Linked DNA regions of Homo sapiens. The protein of the gene in region 1 interacts with the protein of each later gene in a pairwise test. Each region holds a gene or a part of one and is shown on either strand. Other genes may lie near its edges.

The links. Proteins that work in one complex are often made in the same cells at the same time.
Region 2: the proteins of DCC (region 1) and ALDOB interact in a two-hybrid assay, tested with the Homo sapiens proteins (one large-scale study listed by BioGRID and IntAct).

What each region holds. Positions count from the first base shown.
Region 1 is NC_000018.10:52,346,697-52,350,196, reverse strand, and holds part of DCC (netrin receptor DCC), read right to left. Parts: intron 1-3,500. UniProt on the Homo sapiens protein: Receptor for netrin required for axon guidance. Mediates axon attraction of neuronal growth cones in the developing nervous system upon ligand binding. Its association with UNC5 proteins may trigger signaling for axon repulsion.
Region 2 is NC_000009.12:101,432,975-101,436,972, forward strand, and holds the start of ALDOB (fructose-bisphosphate aldolase B), read right to left. Parts: upstream 2,801-3,998; 5' UTR 2,735-2,800; intron 1-2,734. UniProt on the Homo sapiens protein: Catalyzes the aldol cleavage of fructose 1,6-biphosphate to form two triosephosphates dihydroxyacetone phosphate and D-glyceraldehyde 3-phosphate in glycolysis as well as the reverse stereospecific aldol addition reaction in gluconeogenesis.

The DNA of each region.
Region 1 (3,500 bases):
GCCCCTGCAGGGCAGAAACTCATCTAAATCTTTTATTCATCTATTTGTAATCGTTGGTAAAGGCTCAGTAACTATTGTACTATCTTCAATGAAATACTTGGTCTTATTTGGTCCTTATAATATCTCAATGATTTTATTAGGCATTGATAGTCCTTCCTGAAAACTGATAACACAAGTTTTGAGAGACCATATGTTTGTCTATGGCTGTACAATAAGCTAAAGATGATGCTGAATTTGTATTTTATAATATGACTCTGGAGAGCTTACTTAGAAGAGCACATCAGAGTTAGGCCCCTTGATTACAAGAAAGATATAAACAAACTAGAGGGAGTTAAAGTAAGAAGACTAAACATGATTAAGCTTCTGGAGTGGTATGAGGAAAAATCAAATGAATTAAATATTTATAATCTGGTTAAGTAAAGACCAAATGGGGAGGCGAGAGTGATTTATAGCTCGAATTATTGAACACATTTCAGCCCAGAAGAGGCAGTGTCACTGAAAAGGGTATGCAGGAATCAAGAGCCAGATGACAAGGGTAATGGAAAGAACATTTAGAACAGGACTATCTCAGATGAATTGTAAAATAAACTTTTAACAGTAAAACTGATATGCTGCTGAAAACTTCCCCAAGGGAAACAGTCACCAAACCATCCCTGGAGATGCCTCAAACCAGAGAGAGAAAATAACCAGAAATTGTCCTGCAGGGAACAGCTCTGCCCAGACATTAAACATGAAAGGAAAAGCTTTGCAGATTCTTCTCTCTAATTTGTATTCTTCTGGGATCCCATGAGACTGAAAAAAGATGCAGGAACAATGGATTGAGGACTCTGGGTGCAGAGGGTTTGCTTAGATGTCTCAGCCTTGGCTCACATCTCTAATGAGTCTGCACAGAAGGCAACACACTACAGAGGCCTCTGCAAGTACATCTGAGGCTTTATTTCATTCAGGGGTCTTCATTAGCCTGTCCCATGGGAGCAGGTGAAAAAATTATAAACCCAAACAAAAATTGGGGGGGATGGTGCACAAAGCACATACGTTTGTTTGAAACCCACAGTTATATATGCCATAAATGTAACAATGATATTGGGCCTATGTATTTTACCATGTTGGAAATATACCCAAATTCAAATGATCATATTAAGATTTTTAACTCAGATTTGGTGTCTACCATTACTACTCTGTGTTTCTGTTATCCTTTAGTTCCATTATATTCAGGGGATTCATAAGGAGCCTCAAATTAAGCCTGGCATCCCAGCATCCTGCTTCCCTGTAAATGATTCTCTATAAAGACACAATAAACAGGATAAGGCAGGATACTAACATGGCAGGACTTGCTCAGGGTAATCAACAATGTTACAGTGACTAAGAATGTCTTTTCCAACTCAAAATCAGTGTACATTTTGGGAAGGTGCTTAAATAAAGCCTAGGCCAGAGTCAACATGGTAAAGTATTAGGCGACAACTTCCTGAACATTAGACTACTGATAACATCTATGCCTAAAAGCAAAGGGTTGCTTAGTAGAAGAAACAGAATAACTACCAATAATATTAAGGTCTAAAAGCAAATGTTGCTCAGTTGAAGAAACAGAATCATAGAATTGTCTTGCTGACATCACAAATAGCTAACAAATTAATGGAAAAAATGTTCAGACTTATAAGCAATCAGGAAAATGCGAATTAAACCCACAATGAGAAGTTACCAGATGCGGGCAAATTAAGCATATGAAAATACCAAGTGTTGGCAGAGGCATGAAGCAAAGAGGCCTTTCATCTGCCCCTGGTGGGGGTTTCAGTAACTGCAACATGTCTTTGCCTCCCGGATGAAAAGATACCCTTCTATGACTCAGCAATTCCACTCCTAGGTATGCACCCTAAACATGGTGGCAAATTTGTGCTGGTGGACATGCACCAGAATGTTTATGCCAACTTTACTAGCAATAGCAAAAAACTGAATTTCAAAATCCATCAACAATAGATTAGATAAACTATGGTTAATTAATATCATGAAGTATTATACACCAGAGAAAGTGACTGAAATACAGCAATATGAATCCACATAGATGAAACTCAGATACTTAACGTTCAGCAAAATTGCAAGTCAGAGAATATACACATTATATTTATTTTATTACTGTTAAGAACAGCCAAGTAAAGTAACATGTTAAAGATGTATACATATGTGGAAAAACTGTACAAAAGGCAAGGGGTTAATACAAAAATCAGAAAACTGCTAGTGGGTACATGGGTATTTGTTATTATTACATTATTATTATTGTTATCATGATCATGAATTGTATTATTAATTATACCAAACACTATATGTATAGTACAGTTCATAATTTAAATAAATTATATAGTGTTGAAACTAATAACTAGAGTTGATCTAGTCCACATTCTCATTTAATAAGGAAAAATACGTTGTACAAAGTACAAGTGACATCCAAATTAATATCAGATGCTACAGAATCATTAGTTAAAACTAATTAGATATTCCTCTAATAAGGGATTCAGGTGCTGTTTTCTAATCTCCTCTCCTACTTTAAACACAACCCCAACAAAACTTAGTCCCCTATGTCTTAACATCAAAACTAAAAGAGAGAACTGCTTTGAGGAAGTTTTATACAGGGAGAAGTTTCAGCTGAACACAAGATGTAGACAAAATATATTTTATAGCCAGAGATAAAACTCAACAATAGTAACAGTCCATGGTCAATTGATGGGAAAAATAAACAGTTCTGTATGATGCAATGCCTTCAAAAATTATCCCTATAAAATCACATAATACTATAATGAAGTCATAGTGATGTATTGTATCTATTAAGAACAGGTTAAATTATGTTCTACATACTTTTAAAGAGGCAGCTAAGTGAGTGGAGAAATATTTCTAAAAGACTATAGAAAAATAAGTAAAATCTAAAAATGTGATTTGAGTTAAAAACATTTATATTAACTGCTTAACTTCTTTTTTCTCTTGTCAAAATGTAAACACAGATTTAAGAACATTGTAGATGGCCCAGAATAATGTTGTATTGACAAGTCCTCTTATCAGAACACAATTCACTAACCAGTTGGTATTTTCATCAGATAACATCCTAAAGATTCAGTTAATTCAGTGGAACATGTTTGTCCTAGATACTCTTAGGAGTAGCCTTCAGGCAAGAACCAATATTTAAAGGATGAACCAGGAAGAAATCTCCAAATTGCAATAAATACTCCTGTTAAGTTTCATCATCATAACCACAAATGGTTTTAAAGGGTCTTCCTCCCTGGAGGGCCATGGTGAAATGACTGAGCAAGCTAAAAGTCAAAAAATTTGGATTAGTGAAATTAAGCTAAAGTATATCACGAAGTAGAAGTAGATCATAGACACTGGGCTCGTGGAATTTACTAGAAAAGAGAAACATTCCTACAGAAGTCATGCCATAAGAATAGCCTTAAAAATATGATCAATAAATATGGAATGATTTGTGTGTTTCCTACTTGAACTTTTCCCCCCAAGAA
Region 2 (3,998 bases), on another chromosome or scaffold:
TTAAGAACCAGCTCTGCCTAATCTAGCTGGAACCTCAGGCAAGTCAGGCAGCTTCCTGAGTCTCAGTTTACTATGGATTAAATGGTGATAATAACTGTTCTGGTTGTCTCTTTGCCAGGTAACTCAAATGCCATCTATGAGCACCCTGCTCATTGTAGTTGCTCAAAATATATTTGTTAAATTGCATGATAAACATGAAGATTCTTTACAAAGCACTATAAAATGCAATGTATTACTAATTCTCTTTTTTTAATGAAAAAAATCACCTAAGTGACCTCCATTTTTCTGTTTACTGCCTATTACTAAACTATTTTCTTCAATCTGGGTATGCTGACTCAACCAGAATAACAGTGAAAATGATAATTCAAACTAATACTGTTTACAGGGAGTTAAACTTCTACAGTGGGATTAAAGGTCTGTACCACGTTAGCACAAATGTCACCTCTCTGTTAATCATAAAACAGGGTCACAGGCCAATGTTCACCACAAGGAGACAGGAGGACAACCTGGGATGGGTAATGACAAAGAACGATTTCCGTACTCCTAAGCCTCTGCTCTCTCAGATCTCAAGCCAACTTTTTTCAGTGTGATGGAAGTTGTTCACATTATATTATTAAATGAAAAACAAGTTTCAGAGAAGTATGCAATATATACTGTCCTCCTATTTTTTAATTAAAAAATGATATATACCCATACTGTTTTTGTGTCTATATAAACAAAGAGTAACAACTCTGGAGTTACCTCTGAAGAATGGGGTAGGGTGGAGAGATTCTCACATTTCTTTTCTTTTTCTTTCTTTCTTTTTTATTTTCTGAGACAGAGTCTTGCTCTGTTGCCTAGCCTGGAGTGCACTGGCACAATCATGACTCACTGAAGCCTCGTCCTCCTGGGCTCAAGTGATCTTCCCACCTCAGACACCAAGCAGCTGAAACTACAGGCGCCTGCCACCATGCCCAGCTATTTTTTTTTTTATTTTTGGTATAAACAAAGTCTTGCTATGTTGCCCAGGCTTGTCTTGAACTCCTGAGTTCACGCGATCCTCCCACCTTGGCCTCGCAAAGTGCTGGGATTACAGGCATGAGCCACTGCACCCGGCCACATTTCATTTTATACATTCTTTATCACGCACTTTATTACATATGTGTAACAAGTAATATGTATATAAATCTGGAGGAAAGTTGTATTAACAACAGAAGGTAACCACAGAAAAACAGAGCTACAAATGACCTCAGAGATACCTGCGTCAACCCTGTCACTTTAGAGATGAGGAAACTAAAGCCAGAGAGACTATGTCTGATGTGCCTTCTAAGTTGTGATGTTCTAGGATTGCAAGTTACATCCTATTGGCTTATGACTTAGAATTCTATTTCTAATCCTTCAGCAAAATAGCAGGTAGAATCCTATGGTATGGTTCTTTCTGCCTTCCTTGAAGATGTTCTGTGAAAACATAATTATTTGTAACATGGATATTTAATTCCTGGAGAAATAGAAGGCAGCAGAAAGTTCATTTGCTTCTCTATGTACAAGACAAATGGATTTTTAAGGCAAATATGAGGAGGCTTATTTATTGATAGCCCATGATTTCTAGGCACTGCATGCAGCACTTTTGTACATGATGCTTAAAGCTGCCAATAGCTTCATTATCCACCCCAATGTCCCAGTGACAAGTGCAGTGGGATGATCTAGGGCAGTCCTAGGACAGCCTGATTTCCAGTGCCCTTTAACACACGCGGAGCAGCCCAGAACGAGTCCTGAATGGTGCTCTTTCCTCTAAACTTGGAATGAAGCCAAAGGACCTCTTAGATATTCAACATTTCCCCATTCCCTGCCCCAGTATCTCTGGCTCTAACCTGGGCCTGGGTGCTACCCAGATGTGCCTTAGCTAAAGTGATGAATAGCAGGGTAGCAGAGTTCAAGCTCTGGTGCATCCAAATTGTCTAATGGAGCCCTAGGTAACTATTTAAAGAGAAGTTATTTTTTAAAAAGGCAACATATTCTCACAATGCCTATTTTTCAGATAGTAGAGCAAATGTATCAAAATACACAACCTTTTGATTCCTACTATCTTAAGCTGTAGGGTCTTCACAGTGTCTGGGGCCAGCAGGAAATGTTCTAGAAAGTGTCAAACATGAAGGGTTTGGAAATTCATAATCAAATGATGACTATGCTCTGTGAAGTTTCCAACCCTGTTGCATTTCCTCATTTGAGCAGTGGGTGAAGGCGAAGGGCAAAATACTCCAAGGGTTTGTTTCTGTGACAAAGAAACTTCAGTGTCGGTACCAGTAGGTGTGGGAAGAGAATGTAGAAAATGACATAAGGCAGTAGATATGTAAATAAATCACTAAAATAAGTAGTTGTTATGAAAAGAGAGTTGAGAGTTGAAATGAACAGGAATCTCAAAAACTGATTAGAACCTAACGATAGGAGTGTTCAAGTTGTTTTTCCTAGATCAGAGACTCACAAGGGCCTCATTCAGGTAACACAAGTAACTGGCAATCAATCTTGGGCATTTTGCCACCTCTCAAAAAGTCAGGAAAGGTGTGAATGAGCATTTATACTTAGAGAGAGGAAAACAAGCATTTCCCTCCAAGCAGAGCCATCATGTTTTCAGCCACCATCAAGTTTTTCCCGAAAACAAAGGCAAACCAATCTTCCCTTCTATAAGCTTAGTAGTATTATTAACCCCTTATTCACTGGTGCTGTCCAGGTATACAAAGGAAGCTTTTTTACTTACAGTTTGGGAGAGAAGAGTCCTCCTAGATATCAAAAGCTGTGGGTGAGGCAGCAGCTGCCAAATAAGACAGATCTTTGGTAGCACACAATTTTTATAGACTTCTCATCATGTTTTTTTTTTCCAATATTTGCCCTCCCCTTTCTACCTTGACCTAGTAGGGAGGTGTTTATTCAACACCTCTGATTGGCTCATAAACAACCAGTCCTTAAAATCATGCCCATATACTCCTTATGCTCATAGAATGTTAAAGCTGCAAGGAATGTCTTTAGACCGTGGAGTTCCTAATCCAGACCCTCCATTTCACAGATGAGGAAACTAAGGCAAGGAAGATAAGGAGGTTCCCTTAAGTCATACAGCTAGTCAATGATGGAGCTCTAGGGTCCATTAAATGATACTAGGAAGAATGTTAGTGTAGCTGTAACACTTACAAAACACATGAACTTGGTGACGGGTTTTTGGTTTTGTTTTTTACTTGTCTGAGCCGTTATTTTCTTCTCTGTAAAGTGGGATCTCAATTTCACAGGAGCATTAAGTGAGTTGTATAGTGTCTGTACGCAGTAGGCATTCAAGAATTATTATTTCCAAATTAGGTAATCAATGCTATATTTTCATTATTTATCTTCAGTATATCATTAGTAGTCAATTCCAACAATTTATTCTATAATTTATAGTTAAATTTAAATAATCTTTCAATAAAAGAAATTGATTCTGAATCCTTGAATTTCCCATGTGTGAATTTTGTCCAAATTGGAAATAAAATTCAAAACATTCTGTTTTTAAAAATCATTGTCTCTCCCATCTTCTCCAGTCCTCCAAAACCTAGCTGGGCTTTCTGATGTATTTAATGCCAGAAATCATTGTTTTGTATTCCCATTCTCTTTTAACCTTTGTACTTTTGTCTTCAAATTTGGTTAAAAACTAGAATTAAAGTGATTGAACTAAGCCATCAACACCCCTAAATATGGTACTGTCTGGGTATGGGTTCATTCTGCAGGGCTTTTTCCTAAGTATGAAACCCAAATTTAATTCCAGAAAAGGTAAATAAAAATATTATATGCTTCCAGAGGCAAATGATGAATGAGGCAAATAAATGAGGGAAATCTAAAAGTGATGGAATGACCGTAATTACAAAAAAGGGTAAATTCTCATGAACATGTTCCTCTGGAATAATTCATAAAATGGAAAACAAAACTAAGATGCTTGATTGTGCAGAGTGTAACACCAGAATTTATGGATGAAAAGGTGAAATGTCAACAAAATGAAG